Linked DNA regions of Homo sapiens: region 2 is linked to region 1. A link means that fine-mapping ties the variant in region 1 to the expression of a gene that starts in the linked region. Tissue or cell type: monocytes. Region 1 holds a variant in brackets; the other region holds the start of a gene. All regions are shown on one strand. Distances are between the middles of the regions.

Evidence for each region.
Region 2: PPP2R5A starts here. The variant in region 1 is fine-mapped to the expression of PPP2R5A in monocytes (TOPMed, PIP above 0.99). The same link has a PIP of 0.9 or more in blood mononuclear cells and non-classical monocytes.

The regions. Positions count from the first base shown.
Region 1 is chr1:212,242,785-212,253,565 of GRCh38, forward strand. The region is part of intron 1 of LINC02608 (long intergenic non-protein coding RNA 2608); the gene reads right to left. Among named protein-coding and RNA genes, the nearest start is that of LINC02608, 37 kb to the right of the region's middle. RefSeq lists a silencer at 10,074-10,320. The variant C/A (reference allele first, on the strand shown) is at 6,441.
Region 2 is chr1:212,280,397-212,291,177 of GRCh38, forward strand. PPP2R5A (protein phosphatase 2 regulatory subunit B'alpha) reads left to right here and starts at 5,014. Exons shown (of 13, transcript NM_006243.4): 1 at 5,014-5,895. The coding sequence starts at 5,715. It overlaps LINC02608 (long intergenic non-protein coding RNA 2608), which reads right to left and starts at 4,625. Exons shown (of 4, transcript NR_125984.1): 1 at 4,583-4,625. RefSeq lists enhancers at 1,091-1,260, 4,527-4,606 and a silencer at 4,777-5,746.

The DNA of each region.
Region 1 (10,781 bases):
AGGGCTCTGCTTCCGGGCTCTCTAGCCACCTTCTGCCCAAACCTGCTGGAGAGCTGTGGGGGTCAAGGTCAGATTTTCTTGGAGACCCTCCCCACTCTTTTCCCCTTAAATGATTTGGAAAGGCAGGTTGAGAGTTGGGAACAGGGCTGTGAAGAGTATGTGGCTGATGTGGCCTCTACTGTAGAAGCCCAGGTTGTGAATGTCGCAGGAGGAGCTTCTAATGGTGTCTGCCCTTGTCCAGCATGGTCACCTCTGTTTCCTCTCTGTTCTTTACTCCTTACTTCTTAATGCATTTACCTCCCCCACACCTCCCCCAGACCCCTGCCTTCTCTCTCTCTCATCTGTTTCCCCCCCTCAGCCTATCTTGTATTCCCCTTTTGCCTTCTCTCCTGACCTTAGTTCTGCCAAGGACCCTTCATGGACCTTTAGTGATTAGTCCAACTGTTGCCTGGAAGGTCTAAAGTAGCTGCTAATGGTGAGGTTAATGAATGTACAGTCACAGGCCAGATCTGGGGTCATGGTGAATTCCCACTGAGACTGAGACTTCACTGAGGACTCAGGGGAACCTTCTCAGTCTCATTCTTTAAGCTTTTCCTCTCCATTACTGATATTTCTTTGTAAAAATCCAAAAACCATTTAAAATAATACATTATACCTTGTTTCTCAAAGTCTTTTTATATCCGTTGATTTCATCTTTACATCAACCTTGAGAGGGAGGCAAAACAGTTGAGGAAAGAGAAAAACAAAGAAGCTCAACAACATTCCCAAGTTAGTTACAGAGCTATGTTCTCTGCTCCCTGGGTTCTCCTGAAGCAGGAGAATCTCTTGAACCCAGGAGGTGGAGGTTGCAGTGAACTGAGATCGTGCCACTGCACTCCAGCCTGGGTGACAGAGAGAGACTCCATCTAAAAAAAAAAAAAAAAAGAAGAAAGAAAATAAGATTCATTCCATACACCAGAGAGGGATCCTCCAACACCCAGGGTGAGAAGTACATTATCAGGCATCCCTGGCTTATCAAACACTGGACACTTTGTTGACAATCAACTTTGTCACCTGGAACTTCATGAAACAGATTTCCCTGAGTGTCTGTGTTTCCTTCCTTTCTTTCTTTTTTTTTTTGAAACGAAGTTTTGCTCTTGTCGCCCAGGCTGGAGTGCAATGGTGCAATCTCAGCTCACTGCAACCTCCACCTCCCAGGTTCAAGTGATTCTCCTGCCTCAGCCTCCCAAATAGCTAGGATTACAGGCGTGTGCCACCACACCTGGCTAATTTTTGTATTTTTAGTAGAGACGGGGTTTCACCATGTTGGCCAGGCTGGTCTTGAGCTCCTGACCTCAGGTGATCTGCCCGCCTTGGCCTCCCAAAGTGCAGGCCTGAGCCACCACGCCCGGCCTGTGTTTCCTTTCTTTACATCAACCATCTAGCAGCTACTGGTTTCATTTTCTTTTGCACATGCCAAAGTATGTACAGTAAGTGGAAGAGTTAGCCAGAGATGTATATAATGTACTCTTATTTTTTCAAATGATTCAAAAGAAAATTATGACTGTAAAAATTTACTTTTAGGCCTCTAGTGGAGCCTCGCTCTCTCTTTCCTTCTCTCTCTTTCTCTCTGTCCATCTATCTATTACAGATACTAAGTGCTCAGCACTGTGATGTAGGAGGTTCTGATATATTTGTTGGAAAAAGAATCCTCGAGAAACAGTGTAGCAGAAATGTGTGCTTTCACTTCTAACAGCCAGCACTTGCATCTCTATGTCAAAGGGCTGCTCTCAGGCTGCCAGGACCCCCTTTGCATGAAGGCACAGAGAGCTGAAGGGTCTGGACTTTACACACCCGGAAAGCAGCCCTTACCCAGTGACTGGCAGGTGCAGTGAGTAAACACTCCACTCTGAGGTCTCACTTACACTGTCACTGCCCTGTGGGACTGAGCTCAAGTTACCCTCTGTGGGATTTCACTTGATTCCATATCCTTTTCTGGATTCCACATCTTTTTCTGGATTCCACATATTCCTCATTCCACCTTCTCACACCCCTACTGTTTTTTCCTGGGAACACATCCTAAAAAAAATCACGTCCACACCAATTCTTGTCTTAAGATGTGCTTCTGAGGGAACCTAGCTGAAGACAGAGAGTTTGTTTTGTCTTGGGCTCCCTCCCAACCCAAGTCTCTAGGATCAGAGTGAGTGAGAGAGATGGGGGAGTGGAAGAGCAGGCCTGTCTTCAGACACCAGAAGGAGACGTAATTAAAAGCTGAAGATGGTGCCTTCCTAAGGACCGGTGATACAGTTTGCATGTCCCTTCCAAATCTTATGTTGAGATGTAATTCCCAGTGTTGGAGGTGCGGCCTGGTGGGAGGTCTTTGGGTCATCGGGGAGAATCCCTCATGGCTTGGTGTTGTCCTAGTAATAGAGAGTTCTCATGAGATTTGGTTGTTCAAAAGTGTGTGGAACCTCCCCTGGCTCGCTCTCTTGCTCCTGCTCTTGCCATGTGAGGCACCTGCACCCCCTCCACCTTCGACCATGATTGTAAACCTCCTGCGACCCTCACCAGAAGCAGATGCCAGCACCACGCTCCTTGTACTGTCTGCAGAAGTGTGAGCCAATCAAACTTCTTTTCTTTATAAATTACCCAGCCCCAGGTTTTTTTTTTAATAGTAATGCAAATGGGCAGCACTCAAGCAGGGAGAGACAGTGTTCCCAGGTCTGCACAGAATGTATCTCTAGTGCAGAGGGGAGAGGACTGATGGTAACTGAATATCACTTGACACCTCAGGGTTCCCAGTTTGAAAAATACCAGGAGATGGAACCCATGTGGGAAAATGACATCCTTAAAGTAGGCAGAGGGAGCAGCTTCGAGGCCTTTCTTCCAGGTGGTTTCTTGGGGGCAGATGTGCATGAGCAGACTTAGGCCTGAGTGCATGAGAACCATCATCTGGGATGCCCAGAAATAACTGGGAGAATGAATGAAGCACTGATACATACAACCACATAGATGCACCTTGACAACATGCTAAGGCAAGAAGCCAGTCATAAAAGGCCATATACTGTTTGGTTCCATTTATATGAAATGTCCAGAACAGGCAAAGCCATGGAGACAGAAAGCAAATTAATGGTTGCCAGGGGCTGGGAGGAGATGGGAATTAATGGGAAGTGACTGTTTTGTGGGTAGGGGGTTATCTTTTTCAGTGATGAAAATATTCTGGAACTAGATAGTGGTGATGGTTGTACAGAGTTGTGAAATACTAAAAGCCGCTGAGTTGTACACCTTAAAATGGCACATTTTATGATATGTAATTACATACGTAAACCTCAATTTTAGAAAAGAAAGAACTAGGAAATTTGAGGTGGCAGAAGAAAAGCTGAGGTCCTGATTCACAAGAGGAAGTTGCAAGTTAGTAAAATATTTGTTGTTAATGCTACTTTCTCTTCATTTATTGCCTGAATTGTTTCTCATTTGCCTGGTGATGATTGGGATCATCTGTGTTACATGAGACAGTATAGAATTCAGTGCTAAGTTGTGCAGCACACATTCTAAGTGTGGAAGGTGGGTTGTATAGATCACATACTGTACAACCTCCGTGTCTGTACATGGTAGCCCTGGTCAGTTACATATTTCTGCAAACTTCAACACAGGATCTCCACATACAAAGATAGAATGCTAGATTCTTTCTTCTAATTGTTTCAATGGAGTGCAGTGGCGAGATCTCGGCTCACTGCAACCTCCGCTCCCGAGTTCAAGCAAATCTCCTGTCTCAGCCTCTCAAGTAGTTGGGACAACAGGCACACGCCTGACTAATTTTTTTGTATTTTTAGTAGAGACAGGGTTTCACCATATTGGCCAGGCTGGTCTCGAACTCCTGGCCTCAAGTGATTCACCCGATTCAGCCTCCAAAGTGCTGGGATTATAGGCATGAGCCACCACACAGAACCTGAGACCATGTCTTTTTAAGCAAAGGGATTCCCCCCTTTCTTTGCTGCCTTGAGTCGGGGAGCTATAGGTTCTTCCTGATGCTGTGATTTCCCTACCTGACTCCAAACTGGGTATACACCAGGGGCCTGGCACTGGTGCCCACCCTATGAGAGTCTTCAACCCTGGATAGGGTTCTGTTCTGTTTGCTACGGATCTTCCCAGATTCTTCTCCAAATGTCAGGGTTGGTACCTGGGTCCAAAGATTTGCCTCATTTCTGAGGCAACAGAAAAGCAGATTTGATTTCTGGAAGTCATTATGGCATCTGATTTTTCTTGGTCACAATACACTCTAACATGGAGTAGGCTAATTATGATAATACATTTGATATAAAACTATAGTGAAATTGTAGTCTAAGCACTAAGGCCAGTTCAAAAGTCATTACAAGTTTTCTTTTTCAGTGAAAGAAAAAGGAAGTTCCAATTAAAATGTAGGATTTAGCTCCAACCATCCAGTTCTAGCATTTCCTAAGCTTTTGGGACTAAAAATAAATCATTTTCTGACAGTAGTTAGACAGTTCCTTTTCCTCTGAACAGCACGGTCTGAGAGATAGTTAACTTCCCAGCATTCTTCTGTGTATTGTGCGGCGGGTCCAGCCCTCCGCTCCTCACCTCCACACTTCCACCCCGCGAGAGAAATCAGCATAGATGGGTCTCTCCTCCACGGCCTGCATTTCATAAGGGGGTCTGTCTCCAGACACCCAGGTTGGGTGTTTACTTGAAGGCTTGGATGGATAGGAATGCCACTTTCTTATTCCAGAGCTGGTGGAGTGCCTGCTCCCCGCTACTGGCTGTGAGCCAGAGATGGCCTAAAGTCTAAACATTCCCACTATGTAGGCATGTTTTCAATGTCCCTGAGCTTGAGTCACATCTGAACTCAGAGTTTCTGCCTCCTGAGGGAGTTTATGTGGTTGTGTCTGTGTGCTGGTGGGGTTTGTATATGCATATTATGGATTGGAGTGTTTGTGTGTATGTATGGGTGTATTCTGGGAGTTAAAGTGGCTAAGTGTACATATAAAAATTGATATTTATTGTGAAACAGTCAAACAGTAAAGAAAAATGTAAGTTAAAAAACCATAAAATATCACTTTAGTGGACACTTTCCCATGTATTTCTACACACACACACACACACACACACACACACACACACGTAATTTTCTATAAGTGTTATCAATATATTGGAAGGCTGTTTTCTAAGCTAATAATAATAAGAATGGAGAGTGAGTGCTTGCTGTGTGCTAAGTACTGTGCTGGTCCCTTGTCCCTTGATATAGATTAACCTCACTTAATTCTCATGGCCACTTTATGAGGTAGGTACTATCATTATCCCCGTTTTACAGATGAGAAGACTAAGCCAGAGAGAGGGTAGATAAGGTTAGTCTCAAGTGGGTGGCCACACAGCTAGTAAGGGAATGGAACTGGGATTTGGACTCATCTGACTCTGGGGACTCTGTTCTTGACCACTGCTTGATAAAACCAGGTGACAGTAGGCAGCACAGCTGGGCAAGGGTTATTCTTTCATCATTTACTGAGTACCTGACATGGACTAGGCCATAAAAATCCATACAAGACACAGATCTTCTTGAGGCTCAAAGTCTTTTGAAGGAGACAAATGTGTAAGTAAATGATGGCAATTCAGAGTAATTAGGCAAATTACAAAGAGAACAAAAGGGAATCCATTAATACTACCTGAGGAAATTGTAGAGATAACATTGTAACTGTGTCTCAAAGGAAAAGGAGGAGCTGTTTGTTGGGAGTTAAGGTTGGGTAGGATGGGAAGGAAGGGGAAAAGGCCACTTTAGGCTGAGCAAATAACATGTGCAAGGGTATTGGAAATCTTAAGTGTGTGGTGTAGCTGCAGGTAAAGAGTAAGGGAAGGTCTTTGGCTCATGCCTGTAATTCCAGCACTTTGGGAGGCCGAGGTGGGTGGATCACCTGAGGTCAGGAGTTTGAGACCAGCCTGGCCAACATGGTGAAACCCCGTCTCTACTAAAAATACAAAAAATTAGCCAGGCGTGGTGGTGGGCACCTGTAAGCCCAGCTACTTGGGAGGCTGAGGCAGGAGAATCGCTTGAACTCGGGAGGTGGAGGTTGCAGTGAGCCAAGATTGCACCATTGCACTCCAGCCTGGGCAACAGTTAGACTCTGTCTCAAGAAAAAAAAAAAAAAAGGCCGGGCGCAGTGGCTCATGCCTGTAATCCCAGCACTTTGGGAGGCCGAGACGGGTGGATCACAGGGTCAGGAGATTGAGACCATCCTGACTAACACGGTGAAACCCTGACTCTACTAAAAATACCAAAAATTAGCCGGGCGTGGTGGTGGGCGCCTGTAATCCCAGCTACTCGGGAGGCTGAGGCAGGAGAATGGCGTGAACCCGGGAGGCGGAGGTTGCAGTGAGCTGAAATTGCGCCACTGCACTCCAGCCTGGGCGACAGAGCGAGACTCCGTCTCAAAAACACACACACACACACA[C/A]AAAAAACAGTACCGGAAGGGTGGCTCACAGATGGGCATGCAAACTGAGAAGAGTCCGGCTGCTCCACTGAGGATGTTGGCCCCTATTGTATAGGCAGAGGGGAACCACTGCAGCTGCATGAGCAGGACAGTTGCATCATCACAGTGGTGCTTTAAAAGAACAATTAGACAGCAGTCTGGAGGAAGATTCAGAGTGGAGTGGGATTGGAGTAGAGAAAGCGGTTATGCATACAAACAGTAATGCAAGGGTTCTCAGTATTGACTGCCTATGACAATCACCTAAAGAAGTTTTAAAAAAATACTCAGGTGCAGGCCAAACCCTCAGAGATTTTGATTCAGTTAGTCTGGGTTGAGGCTGGGAAAATGGTAGTCTTTAAAAGCTCCCCAGGTGATTCTAGAGTGCCACCAACGTTGGGACCACATCACTACATGGCAGTGTTTAAGAACACAGGCTCTTGTCTCCACAACTTACCAGAAAGCAGGAGATCTTGGGCAAGCTTAGTTGTTGTTGTCATTGTTGTTTTCAGACAAAGTCTTGCTCTTGTCCAGGCTGGAGTGCAATAGCGTGATCTCGGCTCACTGCAACCTCCGCATCCCGGGTTCAAGCGATTCTCCTGCCTCGGCCTCCTGAGTAGCTGGGATTACAGGTGTGCACCACCACGCCCAGCTAATTTTTATATTTTTTAAGTAGAGATGGGGTTTCATCATGTTGGCCAGGCTGGTCTCGAACTCCTGACCTCAGGTGATCCACCCACCTTGGCCTCCCAAAGGGCTGGGATTACAGGCACGAGCTACTGCGCCCAGCCAGTTACTTAGTATTTTTAAGCCTTTGGTTTTCTCACCTATAAAATGGGGATGATAATAGTTACCCCATTGATTAGTAATTATGATATAATATTTATTATAAAACAGTCAAACAAAAAGGAAAAATATAAGGTATATGTATGGTTTGAATAACCCCTTGAAAACAAATTTGATTGCTGTTGGCAAAAATATCTGTTTAATTGCAATTAAACAGTTTAAGAGGTAAAACCTTTATTTTTTATTTATTTGAGATGGGGGACTCACTCCGTTGACCAGGCTGGAGTGCAATGGTGTAGTCATGGCTCATTGCAGCCTTGACCTCCCAGGTTCAAGCAATCCTCCCATCTCAGCCTCCCAACTGAGACTGGGACCACAGATGCACATCACCATACCTGGCTAATTTTCACATTTCTTTTTTGCAGAGACAGGGTCTTGCTACGTTGCTCAGGATGGTCTCATAGAGATAGGTGATTAAGAGGTGATTAAAAGGTGATTAAGTTATGGCTCCACCTTCATAAATAGATTAATGCTGTTACCATGGGAGTGGTCTATTTGTCACAGGAATAGGCTCCTGATAAAAGGATAAATTCAGGCCCCATCTTTCTCTTTGTCTCACAGACTCTCTTGCCCTTCTGCCGTGGGATAATGCAACACAAGGCCCTCGCTGGATGCTGGTGCCATGCTCTTGCTCTTCCCAGCCTCCAGAACCATGAACCAAATAAATTTCTTTTCTTTATTAACTACCCAGCCTGTGGTATCCTTTTATAGCAGCAGAAAACAGATGTAGTTAGTATAGTATATAAGGATTTGAGCACTGTTTCTGACACAGAGTAAGCATTCAATACATAGCAGCTATCATTAATACACTGCAGTGACTCAGGAAAGAGATGATAAGGATTGGAACTAAGTCAGAGGCAGGGGAGATTGCAAGAAGATTATGCATTATCCAGATATTTCAAGAGAGTAGGTGAGGAAAAGAGAATAATTGAAGAGAACTCCATGATTTCAAGCTTGAACAACTCGAGAGATGTTGATGCCATCACTGAGTTTGGAGAAACAGGGATAGGATATAAAGCAAGGGGATAAGAAGTAAGTATTGGGATGGAGAAAATAAGTTGGATTAGATGTACTGAGTTGGAGGTACCTGTGGGTCATCGGGTGGAGACATCCAGCAGGAAGTTGGCATGATGGTCTGAGCTCAAGAAAGAGGTCTGGGCTGGAGGTATTTTTTTGGGGAGCCATGAACATATGAGTGGAAAGTTGAAGCTATAAAAGTAGATAATGGGCTGGGCGTAGTGGCTCATGCCTGTAATCCCAGCACTTTGGGAGGCTGAGGGGATCACCTGAGGTTGGGAGTTCAAGACCAGCCTGACCAACATGGAGAAACCCCGTCTCCACTAAAAATACAAAATTAGCTGAGCATGGTGGTGCATGCCTGTAATCCAAGCTACTCGGGAGGCTGAGGCAGAAGAATCGCTTGAACCTGGGAGGCAGAGGTTGTGGTGAGCCAAGATTGTACCATTGCGCTCCAGCCTGGGCAACAGAAGTGAAACTCTGTCTCAAAAGAAACCAAAAAAGTAGATGTTTATCAAAGAGAGTCTATTAGTGAGAATAGATGAAGGTTGAGTTTAGAACATGGGAAATGTCCAAATATATGGGGTGGATGGAAGGAAAAGGAATCTGCCCCCAGGAATAAGGTAGGGGATAGAAAGAATAGCAGGAATTATAAGGAAAACTAAGAAACAACTATTATCCACAGGAAAGGAAATAAGCCTGGGATAGAAAAAAAGTCTAGTTGGGAGCATTGAGCAAAATAACAAAATTTTTTTACTTAGTCACTTTGATTCAATTTAATAGGATGCTCTTAAAAGACTTTAAAGTTTTTTTCATTTTGCCCACTGCTTCCAAAGGCCATCTTTTCATTCCATATCTAGATGGCAGATACTGGAGCAGAAGCAGTGGCAAAAAGCCTCAGTCACATCTTGCCCTGCGGTAGTCCTGTGCAGGGATGGCATGAATAACTGTAGGAGGCAAAGGAGCAAGCATACCCTTTATACCCTGAGACCCTTGCTCAAAGCTGTCAGTATCTAGCCTGGGAAAGGCTTTTGCTGCCCATCATGCCTCTCAGGCTTTTTGGTACTCAAAGAACCTAGATGACCCTTTTCATCTGTATCAGGAAGCCACTTTTGGACCCTACTGTCAGCACCATCATCTTACTCCTCTCCACCAGGAGGACATATCTTCAAAGTAGCTCCTTCCTACCAGAAAGTTTGGACAATCAGGCCACTCACTGAGTTCAGAGAGACTTCAGAAGTGGCAGCCTAGGGAATCAGTACTCTGTAAGTGGCCTGGGCACCAGAGGCTGTGGGAGACTTTTTGAAGCTCATGTCTGATAGTAATGGTTCTCAAAGATTGACCCCTGGGCCAGCAGCAGCATCTGGGAAACTTATTAGAAATGCAGATTCTCAGGACTCATCCCAGGCCTACTGAATCAGGAGCTCTGGGGGTAGGACCCAGCAGTCTGTGTTTTTAATAAGCCTTCTCAAGTTTGAGAACCACTGTCCTGTATAAACAGGACTAGAAACACCAAGGTTAGGAATCTGTCTCCTTTTTTCTCTGTATCTCTCCCTAGTACACAATTCTTCAGGTAGTAGACTTAATAAATGTTGTTCAGCAGGTGTTTATTGAGGATGTAGTATGTGGAAAACTGTAACGTTGAAGCCAAACACACACACACACACACACACGCACACACACACATTCATTTGCACATACTCACACACGAGACTTTTTCTTTGGGACTCTATAATTACATATACAAGAGTTAGATCAAAGATAGATCAAGGCTGGGCACAGTATCTCATGCCTGTAATCTCAACACTTTGGGAGGCTGAGGTGGGAGGATTACCTGAGGTCAGGAGTTCAAGACCAGCCTGGCCAACGTGGTGAAACCCTGCCTCTACTAAAAATACAAAAATTAGCCAAGCGTGGTGGCACACACCTGTAATCCTAGCTACTCAGGAGGCTGAGGCAGGAACCTGGGAGGTGGAGGTTGCAGTGAGCTGAGATCCCACCACTGTACTCCAGCCTCAGTAACAGAATCAGACTCTGTCTCAAAAAAAAAAAAAAAAAAAAGATCAAGACAAGGTATTAGGATTGTAATGAGTAGGCTATAAATGATACCACAGGGCAGATCCAGAATGTAGGACATTCTACAGGCCTATTAACTTGAGGGGAAAAGTAGAGGAGAGACTACTCTAGCTTAAAAGGAGTTAAAGGGCTGGGTGTGGTGGTTCACACCTGTAATCCCAGCACTTTGGGAGACTGAGGCAGGAGGACTGCTTGAGGACAAGACTTAGAGGCCAGCCTGGGCAACATAGCAAAATCCTGGGACAGACACGGTGGCTCAGGCCTGTAATCCCAGCACTTTGGGAGGCCGAGGCAGGTGGATCACTTCAGGTCAGAAGTTCAAGACCAGCCTGGCCAACATAGAGAAACCCTGTTTCTACTAAAAATATAAAAATTAGCTGGGCTAGG
Region 2 (10,781 bases), 38 kb after region 1:
TTCATTGTTTTCATGTGGATGTATGGTTTTCCTAGCATCTTTATTGAAGAGACTATCATATACGGTTGAATTTATCTCTGGGCTCTCTATTCTGTTCCACTGGTTTATGTGTCTGTTTTTATGCCAGAACTATTCTGTTTTGATTACTATAGCTTTGTAATATACTTTTAAATCAGGAAGTATGATACCTCTAACTTTTCGTTTTTCAGTATTGCTTTGGCTATTTGGGAATTTTTGTGGTTGCAAATGAATTTTATTGTTTTTTCTATTTCTGTAAAGAATGCCACTGGAATTTTGATAGGGACTGGGTTAAATCTATATATTGCTTTGGATAAATCTATATATTGCTTTGGATGAACATTTTAACAATATTAATTTCCTTGCTGGAATAGCAGTTAGGATTTGGTGCTCTCTCCTGCAGCTTCTTGAAGTGTGACTTTGCTAAGCCTTAAGCAATTAAACACATTATATCTCTGGAAACATATATAAGAAACTGATAGCAGTGGTTGTCCCCAAAGCGGGGAACCAGATGTTGGGAAGCAGGGGTGGGAGTGAGACGTTTCCTGTTGCCCTTTTACTCCTTCTGAATTTTAAATAATGAGAATGTATTTAAATAAATAGAAATGAGGCACTAAAAATTAGTGTATTTTTATAAGTCAGATACTATCTTGATTTAGATTCTAGTAAAGTGGTAGTAAGATGCAAACATTTTTAAAAGATATGAGATATTTTTTATTTTTATTTTTTGAGATAAAGTGTCACTCTTTCTCCCAGGCTAGAGTGCAGTGGCACCATCAGTGCTCACTGCAGCCTCGACTTCCTGGCATCAGGTGATTCTCCCACCTGAGCCTCCTGAGTCACTGGGACTACAAGTGCACACCCCCACCGCCACCTAATTTTCTGTATTTTTAGTAGAGATGGGGTTTTGCCACATTGCCCAGGCTGGTCTTGAATTCCTGGGCTCAAGTGATCCTCCGGCCTTGGCCTCCCAAAGTGCTGGGATTACAGGCATGAGCCACTGTGCCTGATCATGAGAGAAGTTTTGTGTAAATTTGGAAAATACTACCACTCTTTGATTCTGTAGATCCGGCACCTTGGTCTGGTGTTCTATTGGAGCAGTTTGGGAATCATGACTCTTAAGGAAAGAGAATGTTGACAGTCAAAACTTTGCTTGGATATGCTTTAGAGAATTTCACAGTGATTTGAAAAGAACACTCTCTGTGATGTGCTCTTTAAAACCATTACACAACCATTATTTTGATGTTGTGGATATTACTTTTTCTCGCATCATTTTTCTCAACAAAAGGATAAGGTCAGTAAGTGTATATACGTTTATAAACTAAGGAAGTTAAGTAATGTAAGCACAAACCATCCAAGGAATTTGTTAGTGATGCAATCCTGGCCTCTAAATTGCTCTTGACCAAGGAGCTTCACATATGGGAAGGATCAGAAATTCTATGGCATGGAATCAAAGACACTCTTCCTGCTTCAGGGGCACATATAGATTAGTACTGTCATTGCAGTTTCCTATTAGATGATTCTTAGTGACCAAATCTCTGTCTAGGACCCAGATACCTTATTTACTCAAAATAGTGGACGGAAAATAAACGTTTGATATACATGTATGCATAATATTTTCATCTACATAATTTTTATTTCCCTGAGTGTTTTTTCTTGGGTCATATTTAAAACTCATGCCAGCCCTGTGAAGAAGGTTGTCATTTTTTTTTTCTGATGTACACATGTGGAAAAAGTGACTGGACAGAATCATTCTATTGATAAGTAGCACAGAGTCAGGCATTTTGATTCTTGGGCTTTTGTTCTTCCCCCTGGAAAATGCTTAGTGACTTGATCTGGAATGCCATCCTCTCTTTTCAGGTTTTGACTTGATCTTTAAAATTATGCTCAAAATTCTTCCCCAAGAGGCTGTTTCACCAAAGCCCAGATGGTTTTTGCTGGTTCCAAGACTCCCAAAAACTTGTTTCCAGTATTTTCTATTATATCCAGTATCTATTATTTATCACATTCCAGTATGAACATGGAATATGATTTATTGTATTGACTTACAGAATTTGCTTTATTGTATTTATTTTTTTCTTTTCTTTTTTTTTTTTTCTTTTTTGAAACGGAGTCTCACTCTGTCACCCAGGCTGGAGTGCAGTGGCGCAATCTTGGCTCACTGCAACCTCCGCCTCCCGGGTTCAAGCGATTCTTCTGCCTCAGCCTCCTGAGTAGCTGGGACTACAGGCTCGTACCACCACACCTGGCTAATTTTTTATTTTTAGTAGAGACAGGGTTTCACCATGTTGGCCAGGCTGGTCTCAAACTCCTGACCTCGTGATCACCCACCTCGGCCTCCCAAAGTGCTGGGATTACAGACGTGAGCCACTGCGCCCGGCCTGTACTGATTTTCTTTCTGCTATTTGTCTCCCTTTCTTATTTTATGTAAATTATTATAAATAGTACTACTCCTGACTTACAGACATTTACATTCTGTTTTTAATAACTTCTAGATGACTAGAGAATAGTAGTTCCAAACTTTTGTGTACATAAGAATAACCTAGGGAAGTTATTAAAAATAGACTTCTCAGTGCTCTTCCCATAGGTTCTAGTTCTGTTGGGGGGAGGCGGGGGAGGTCCAGGAATCTGCATTTTCAATAAGCACCCCAGAGGATGCTGATGCAGGTGATCCAGTAACCACGCTTTCAGAAATTCTGCTGTTGAGAACTAAAAATGTGATTGTTATCCTCTGCTCAGTAGGGGAAACAGAGGTGTAAAATAAAATAACTGAGTTCTTGCTCTCTTGGTGTTGACAAACTTTCAGCTGTGAGTGGTGTGGACACTAAATGCAATAGGAATACAAAGAAGGGAGGCATCACTTCTGGCTGGATTGTCAAGCTTCATAAAAGATAGGGGGTTTGAAGAAAAGAAATTTCAAAAAGATGAAAAAAAAATGGGCCGGGCGCGGTGGCTCACGCCTGTAATCCCAGCGCTTTGGGAGGCGGAGGTGGCCGAATCACGAGGTCAGGAGTTCGAGACAAGCCTGGGCAACATGGTGAAACCCCGTCGCTACTAAAAATACAAAAAATTAGCCGGGCGTGGTGGCAGGTGCCTGTAATCCCAGCTACTCGGGAGGCTGAGGCAGGAGAATCGCTTGAACCCGGGAGGCGGAGCATGCAGTGAGCCGAGATTGTGCCACCATTGCACTCCAGCCTGGGTGACAGAGCAAGACTCCGTCTCAAAAAAGAAAAAAAAAAGTGGATTATTTCAAGATGTTGGAACAGCAAAGACTAAGTGTTGAGGATGCATAACTTCTTTTAGGGGATCAGTATGTGGAATGATGTGCCTGAACTAAAAAGAGTTTTTGTGGGCACATGTAGGAATTTACACTTGGAAAGACAGGAGTCAGATCGCAGAGAGTCTTGAATTTGGACTCTATTCTGCAGGTATTGGGTGGTTCCTCAAACACGCAGGTAAGATAAAAGTGATCTTAAAAGATTGATGTGGCAGTGAGTTTGAAAGCCGTGAACTACGTTTGGCGGTCTTTGTACACATTGGGAGAAACGCCAATTGTGAAAGTAGATTTAACATGATCTGGAGCTTGACTATGTGAGAAAGCGAAAAGTGTCAGAAACGCTGCTGAGGTTTGAACCTCCTTGACTGGGAGGATTATGTACAATTTCACCGCCCAGCAAATCTGAAGGAGGAAATGTTTTGAGGATAGTATGTTTGGTTCTAGGTCTAGAATTCAACTTCCTGCCAAATTTGGAATCTTCTGTACATATGCATCAGGTGGCTTCGTTTAAATATACGACAATTACTTTTATTATGTTGAAAGGAAAAGGTCTGGAGCTCGAGGGAGGGGATTACAGATTTGGGTCCATTGGCGCAAAGGGAGGCTGACTGTTCAGATTAATAATTATTAACGGCCACCGTATGGAAAGCACTGCACGAAAAACTAAGATGACCAGTCCTCGTCCTTAAGAAATTCAAAATCTAGACGGAATCTCCAAGAAAGAGATTCCGGTAAGAGTACATGGCAAGCCTCCATATCCACACACCACTGACCAATGAATTTGTACTCTTCTCGTTGGAGTAGTTGAGGGCCTTTGGCTCAAGGAGGGGTGAAAATTAGCAGGATACTAAATTGGGAATGAGAAATCTCTTTTTAGAGGGCGTGGACTTGCAGAACTCTTTGAAGCAGCAGATGCTAGACTGCCCAAACCCCACGCGAGAGTAGCTCTCTGGAGTTGCGGAGTCCGAACCTCCCAAGAGCTACAAATTTATTCCGCAACTACCAATTTTGCGGTTTGGGGCCAGTAAGGCGCCAAGACCCGCCCAGGTGTCCAGACCTCGCAACGATTGGACGAGCTCACCTTCTCGCCTTCCCCGGGCCCCTCGCCCGTCAATCACACTGCTTGCTCGCCACCTGACCTCTGCTGCGCCCCCTTTCAGTGGTGTAACACCTGGCGCTCTTTCGCGCCCCAGCCCTCCGGCGCCCCACCAATCGCTTCAGTTCTTCATTGGCCAGCAGAGAGGTGAGGGAAGGGAAGGGGCGCTCTATTTTGCTCTCTGAACGCACCCTCTCAAGTTTCCCAGTCTTCTCGTAGACGGTCAGGAGAGCAATGACAGCCTGGAGCAGTCGCGCGTGAGCGCAAAAATGCCCGCTGGTGGAGGAGCGCTTCCCCTCCCTCCCAAGCGATTTGCCGCATTTGTTCTGACGCAGGGGCACCCCGCTCGCCGTCTTCACTTACGATTGGCTGTGGCCGAAGCCCGTCACACAGCCCGCCCCACTCCTCTGCCTCAAGAGGCCGCACCTCACGCCGTCGCTGCCGCTTAGCCGTGTGATTGGCTAAGAGGGCTGGCATGCTTTCCCGCCCCCTCCCCCGCCGCCGCACCAAGAGGCGGGCGGGACCCCGCGGAAGTTGTCAGTCAAACTCCTCCTTCCCACCCCTTGCGAGGCCCCTCCCCGGGCCGCGCGCCCTGGCGCGCGCACACGCGCACACACTCCCCAGTCGCCTGTACCAACCACCTTCTCAAGTTGTAGCGGTCGCTCGCCTGGGGTTCTCCGTGGGCGGCCGACGGGCGCGTGGGGGAGGGGGTTCGGGCCGCCCAGCGCGGCAAGGAGCGAGTGTGTGCACGCAGAGGGCCGGGGCTACGGGGCAGCGCCCCGGGCGATGAGGGGCCGGCGTTGACCGGGAAGAGCGGGCACCGCGGCAGTGGCTCCGAGGGGACCCGCGATGGCAGCGCCCTGAGAGGAGGCTCCAGGCAGGGCGGGCTGCGCTGGCAGCGGCCGCTGAGGTGCTGGCCGGCCGGCTGGCTGGCGACGGGGGCAGAAGCGACGAGAGGCGCGCTCGGCACCCGCACCCCCGTGCCCCCGCCTCAGTTGTCTAAACTTCGGGCTCTCTTCCACCCGCTCTGCGCGCCCAGAGTCAACAACTTCTTCACCCCCCTCCGCCCCCGCCCTTCCCTCCGTCAGCCCCGGGAGCTCGCCGCGCGCCGGGGACCAGGAACCTCCAGCGCTGAGATGTGGCCGTGAGGCGTTGGCGGGCGGCGAGGAGAAGCTCGGCGGCGTCCCGGGGCCGGAGGGCCGTGGGGCCGGGGCGCAGGGGCGCGAGCACCCCGCGCCTCTCCCCCGCCTCCTCCTGCCGTCTCCGCCGCTGCCCGTGCCTTGCAAGCAGCAGCCGGAGCTGCCAAGCGTCAGGGCCGCGGAGATGTCGTCGTCGTCGCCGCCGGCGGGGGCTGCCAGCGCCGCCATCTCGGCCTCGGAGAAAGTGGACGGCTTCACCCGGAAATCGGTCCGCAAGGCGCAGAGGCAGAAGCGCTCCCAGGGCTCGTCGCAGTTTCGCAGCCAGGGCAGCCAGGCAGAGCTGCACCCGCTGCCCCAGCTCAAAGGTAACCTCCGAGGGCGCAGCCCCAGCAGCGAGCGCAGGGGCTGGCAACGCTTGCCTCTGCGCCAGCAGAGCCATTTCCTGCTGGGTTTCTCCTGCTCAGTTGGGACTGGTAGTGTGTGAGCCGAGTTCCCCACAATGCCTTGGCGTCACCTCACGCCCTCCTCCTTATTCAAACAGGTTTTCTGTGAAGTCTTGGCTGTTTCCTTCTAATTCCCACCTGAACTCTTTCCATCCTAGGGGAGGCCAACACCCTTCCCCACCTGCGCGCTTGCTTAACCTGCACTTCCTATCTTGCGTCCCGTGAAGTAGAGTCCTTCACTCCTCTTCCAGGTTTGCCCTTTCCCGGTCTTGCTTTAACAACCGCACGAACCTTCCCCGACCTTCACTTTCCCGAGTGTCAGCTCCTCTGTTCGGCCACTTTTAGCTAGTCCTTTACTTTTACAGTTATAAAGCCGTCTGCACCCACCTTCTTCTCAACTTCACTTCCCATTGATTGCCCCTAAGAGTCATCAGACCAGGAATCCGAATGCAAACAACGGTTAAGAGTTAGCTGGCCTTTGGATGTATTTATAAAGAAAAAGCCTAAAATTTGACCAGTGTAGTATCTTATTCACAGGATCGTTAGCTTTAAATGGTATCCTTTAGCTCAAGGAATAGATTTAAAATATTCTGTTGTCTGAGCCGATACACATGGTCTATTTGGAAATACGAAGGAGTAGGTAGTGTTGCTTTGCAGTCGAATGGGAACTTAGTTTGCCAGGCAGTGATTCCAGGGACTTTGTAGGTTTGTACAGGAATTCAAATTGGTATCCGTGCCTAATGCCTTGCAGGAGAACTTGGCACTCTTTTTGGCTCACTTTTCCCACTAGGTTTAGAGGATTTTCGATGTTATTTCCTGGTGTTCTAGTTTATTCTTTGTGTATTACTCATGCTTAATTTTATAATTTTAATGTCCTTGCTTTTTATGAGATAGAAATGTTGGAACAAGATGATAATGCTCCTACATATTTAGATAAAATTTGCAACCTGACGGAAATCCCTATCATCTGATGTTCAGATTTTTCAATTCATTTGAAAAAGCTGCAGCATCCCCTTCAAGGCCAGTCTGGTTCTCATTTGTCTTTGGGCCTGTGAATCCAGCCTTAGTTTGGCAAGGAGTCTAAAGAAAACCCCAGATCAAATCACAGTTGACCTACAACAGCTCCAGAACCCTATTGAGACCCTACCTTGCCCTGACTCTTGGAGTGCTTCTAAATCATGACATCTCACAGTTAGAATCAAACTGGCTTTTGAACAGAGATTTTGAGATATTAGTCTGTGCTATCGAATTTATCATTTGATTGCTCTTTAGCATATAAAAATTGTTAAAATTTACATAGCAAAATGGTAGACTATAATGATAGGCATTGCCAAGACTTTAATTCTTGAATGATGTCATAGCTATAAAAGAATATCGTCTTTGCTATTCATAGATTTTAAAATTTACACTTATTTAAAATATCATAGTTTTTTTATACTACTGATTTTTTTTCTCCCATTAAATTGTCAAACTGTAGTTTGAAGGTTTGGTGCTAGGGTTATTTCATAGTTATTTAATTTGCTTTTTAGTAAGATATTCTAGTTTCTTAGTATTGTACTTCTTAATAGTATACTTTAATAAAAGTAATTGAATATTAAACATTTGGTTGGTTTCAAGCCAGGAGATGCAGCTTTGATAGGTTTTGCTTTTATTTTATTTATTTTATTTTATTTTTTCACTTTCGTTGCTCAGGCTGGAGTGCAATGGCGCGATCTCAGCTCACTGCAACCTCCGCCTCCCGGGTTCAAACAATTCTTCTGCCTCAGCCTCCCAACTAGCTGGGATTACAGGCATGTGTCACCATGGCCGGCTAATTTCGTATTCTTAGTAGAGATGGGGTTTCACCATGTTGGTGAGGCTGGTCTCCAACTCCTGACCTCAGGTGATCAGGCCACCTCAGCCTCCCAAAGTGGTGGGATTACAGGCGTGAGCCACCGCACCTGGCCACATTTTGCTTTTAAAAGCTTGGAAAAATATGCATAGAGTCAGTAATCATCTAAGTTATATGATGTAGGGTTCAACAAGTTGAAGGTGCCATATAGTATTTGGTCACTAGTAAAGAAGAAAGTAAATTGGAACTTTACATTAATTGTAGATATTTGCATGAAAATACAGTATTCATCATAAGGAAAATTATGTATTCAGGATAAATTTATGCAAATTTAATTGAGGAAATAAGACCCTTACTTGGATTACAAACTAATAGGAACAACTTCTTTTACTCCAGATGCCAAAATGCTTGCAAGTGATTTAAAAAAAAAACACCAACATTCAATTGCTTCAATTGGAACTTTGGCAGTGTACTTGATACCACAGTGTTGTGTTTTTTCTGCCAGTGGTAGTTTTTTCCATTTGTGGCCTTCACAAAAACATGGAAAGCCCTTTAGTATGTGTATGAAAGAAAGAATTTTCTTCCTCCTCTGAAATACCATCTTACTGTGGAGTGATTCAGATATCCATGGACTCCAAGATCTTTTAAGTTTCATACCAGCCTGCTTATGTTACTTTGACCACATGCATCTGAACTGGAAAGGTGCCAACTAGTTTTCCTCAAACCATAGTAAGGATTAACAAAATAATCCAGCCTTTTCACCTGTAAGAAGTATTTGTGCAAAATAATTTAGTAAGTGGGTTGTGGGATTTTAATGGCAAAAATGTTCAGAATAAATTGTTTTATAATTGAAAGTATTTAATAAACAACAAGCCTTGTTAAAAGGCTTTTCAGTCTAACCTATTTTGTTTAAGATTCTGGAAGGCTTGGTTTGGTAAAGTAGTTGATGCCTTACATTTATATAACATTTTAGCATTTTAAAATTATTTTACCTTAAAAATTTTCTTAAATTATAAAACAGTATTGTTCATACCAAGTGAAACAATCCAAAGATATGTAACCCTTAATCCCTGTGTATCTCCTGCTTTTTCACACCTAGTAAGTAAGGGTAATACTGTTGTTTGATAATCCATGGCTCATTGTATTTTTACAAACATCCTATTCATTGGGTCATCCCTGAACTTTTTGCAAGGTCAGTATTCCCATTTTATTGATGAGAAAGTTGAGGCCTAAAAAGAATAGTTTCTGGCCTGTGATTACTTATCTGGATGATGTTGCAGCTGACACTGGGACCTAGGTCAAATGATTTCAGTATTTGTGCTGTTAACTGTTTTATGTAAATTTGAAGCAGTGTGATAGAGTTGGGTCTCTGGGGTTAGTCCTGGGTCAAAGGTAAATTTTTAATCTTTCTAAGTCGTTTTCCTTATCTGTAAAATGGGGATAATACAAATCTCCCCAGGCCTGTGGGGATTAAGGGGAATAATTTAAGTGCCTAAAAATAGGCAAAGAATGTTAGTTCCCATTCTCTTAAATATTTGAAAATCCAGATTAAAAATATTTTTAAATGAAGGATTATTAATAGGATTACTTACTTAAATGGTAAACTTTCCTAGTGTATTTAAAGTGATTTTATTTATAATCAGTTTTCAGATATGATTTATGTGATCTGAAGTGCAGCTGCAACATCTTTCAGCACGAGTGTAGAAATGGAAATAGGATTAAGTCAGACTCTTTAAAACATTAAAAGCTGTGATAAGATTTTTTTACCAAGCGAAGAAATCAACCTAACCAGTAGAATTATATAGATGTGCAGTCATCTTAGGAGACAGCCGGGAAATAAATAGCAAGATAGGCTGAAACTGGCTTTGAGATTGAAGTCCCCTTCAGAAGAGGTAAAACTTTCCCAAGTAGCACTCAAGATTCTTTGTTGGTCCATTCTTAGCAACTGTGTCCCACTAGAGGTATTGAGGCCAGTAATAGTGGTGTTGATTGCAGTGCTTCCTTACCTTTAGGGGGAAAAATGTGTGTGTTTTCTAAAGTAGGTGATCTAAGGTAATTGTGGAACAAGAACACTGACATTATCTTAAGTTCTATAGCTAAACCTTTTTGTGGAGAGAAAACCGTACTACTCACTCAACTTTTAAGGTTTATAGATCTTCTCAAAGTTACTATCATTCCATCTAAACACAGTTGGGATGGCACTAGAGGAGAGTTCAAATTCATCTGAAGATGTTAAGAAAATTGTTTACAAAAGGAAATAACATTTTAGTCATTTTAGGACTATTTTCTGAGATATCTCTTCTGGAAGATTTATTTTTAAAAAATTTAAAACATTTTTAGGATATTCTTAAGAGAAATTGCTAAATAAAGTGTTCACTGCTAGTCCTCACATAAAGGAAAAACTTTTCTATTTAAACCCATTTTAACATCTTTAGAATTCCTGTTTAGGATCATCTCTTCCTCCTCTCCATTTTATTACCTTATCTGATTGTTAATTGTGGATTATTTTATGAAGTGTCTAACTGAATAAAGTGCTAATCCAATAAAATGTATTTGGTAAAATAATGCAACCATTGTAGTATGTTACTGTCATGTAAACAGTAGATTTAAATTGTCTTCCTGCATCAGTGATGACTCATTCCTTTCAACTTCAGTTTAGCCATTTTCACCTGCAAGAATAACATTTTTCTCTTGATAAAATAACAAAGATGAATTAGTCTTTAAGGAGTTATTGCTGCCTTGGATTTCAAAGACAGGTTTACTAACAGAAATAACACATTTAGATTTTTGTGTTTCATTTTTAAAAGTTAGATTTTTGTAAAAAGCTGGGGATAAAGACTAGTTTGTTTTTATGTGTTTAGCACTGTGGTTCCCAATCCTGGCTATACTTGGAGAGGTCATTTATTTTATTTTATTTTATTTTTTTTCAGACTGAGTCTCGCTGTGTCCCCAGGCTAGAGTGCAGTGGCACGATCTC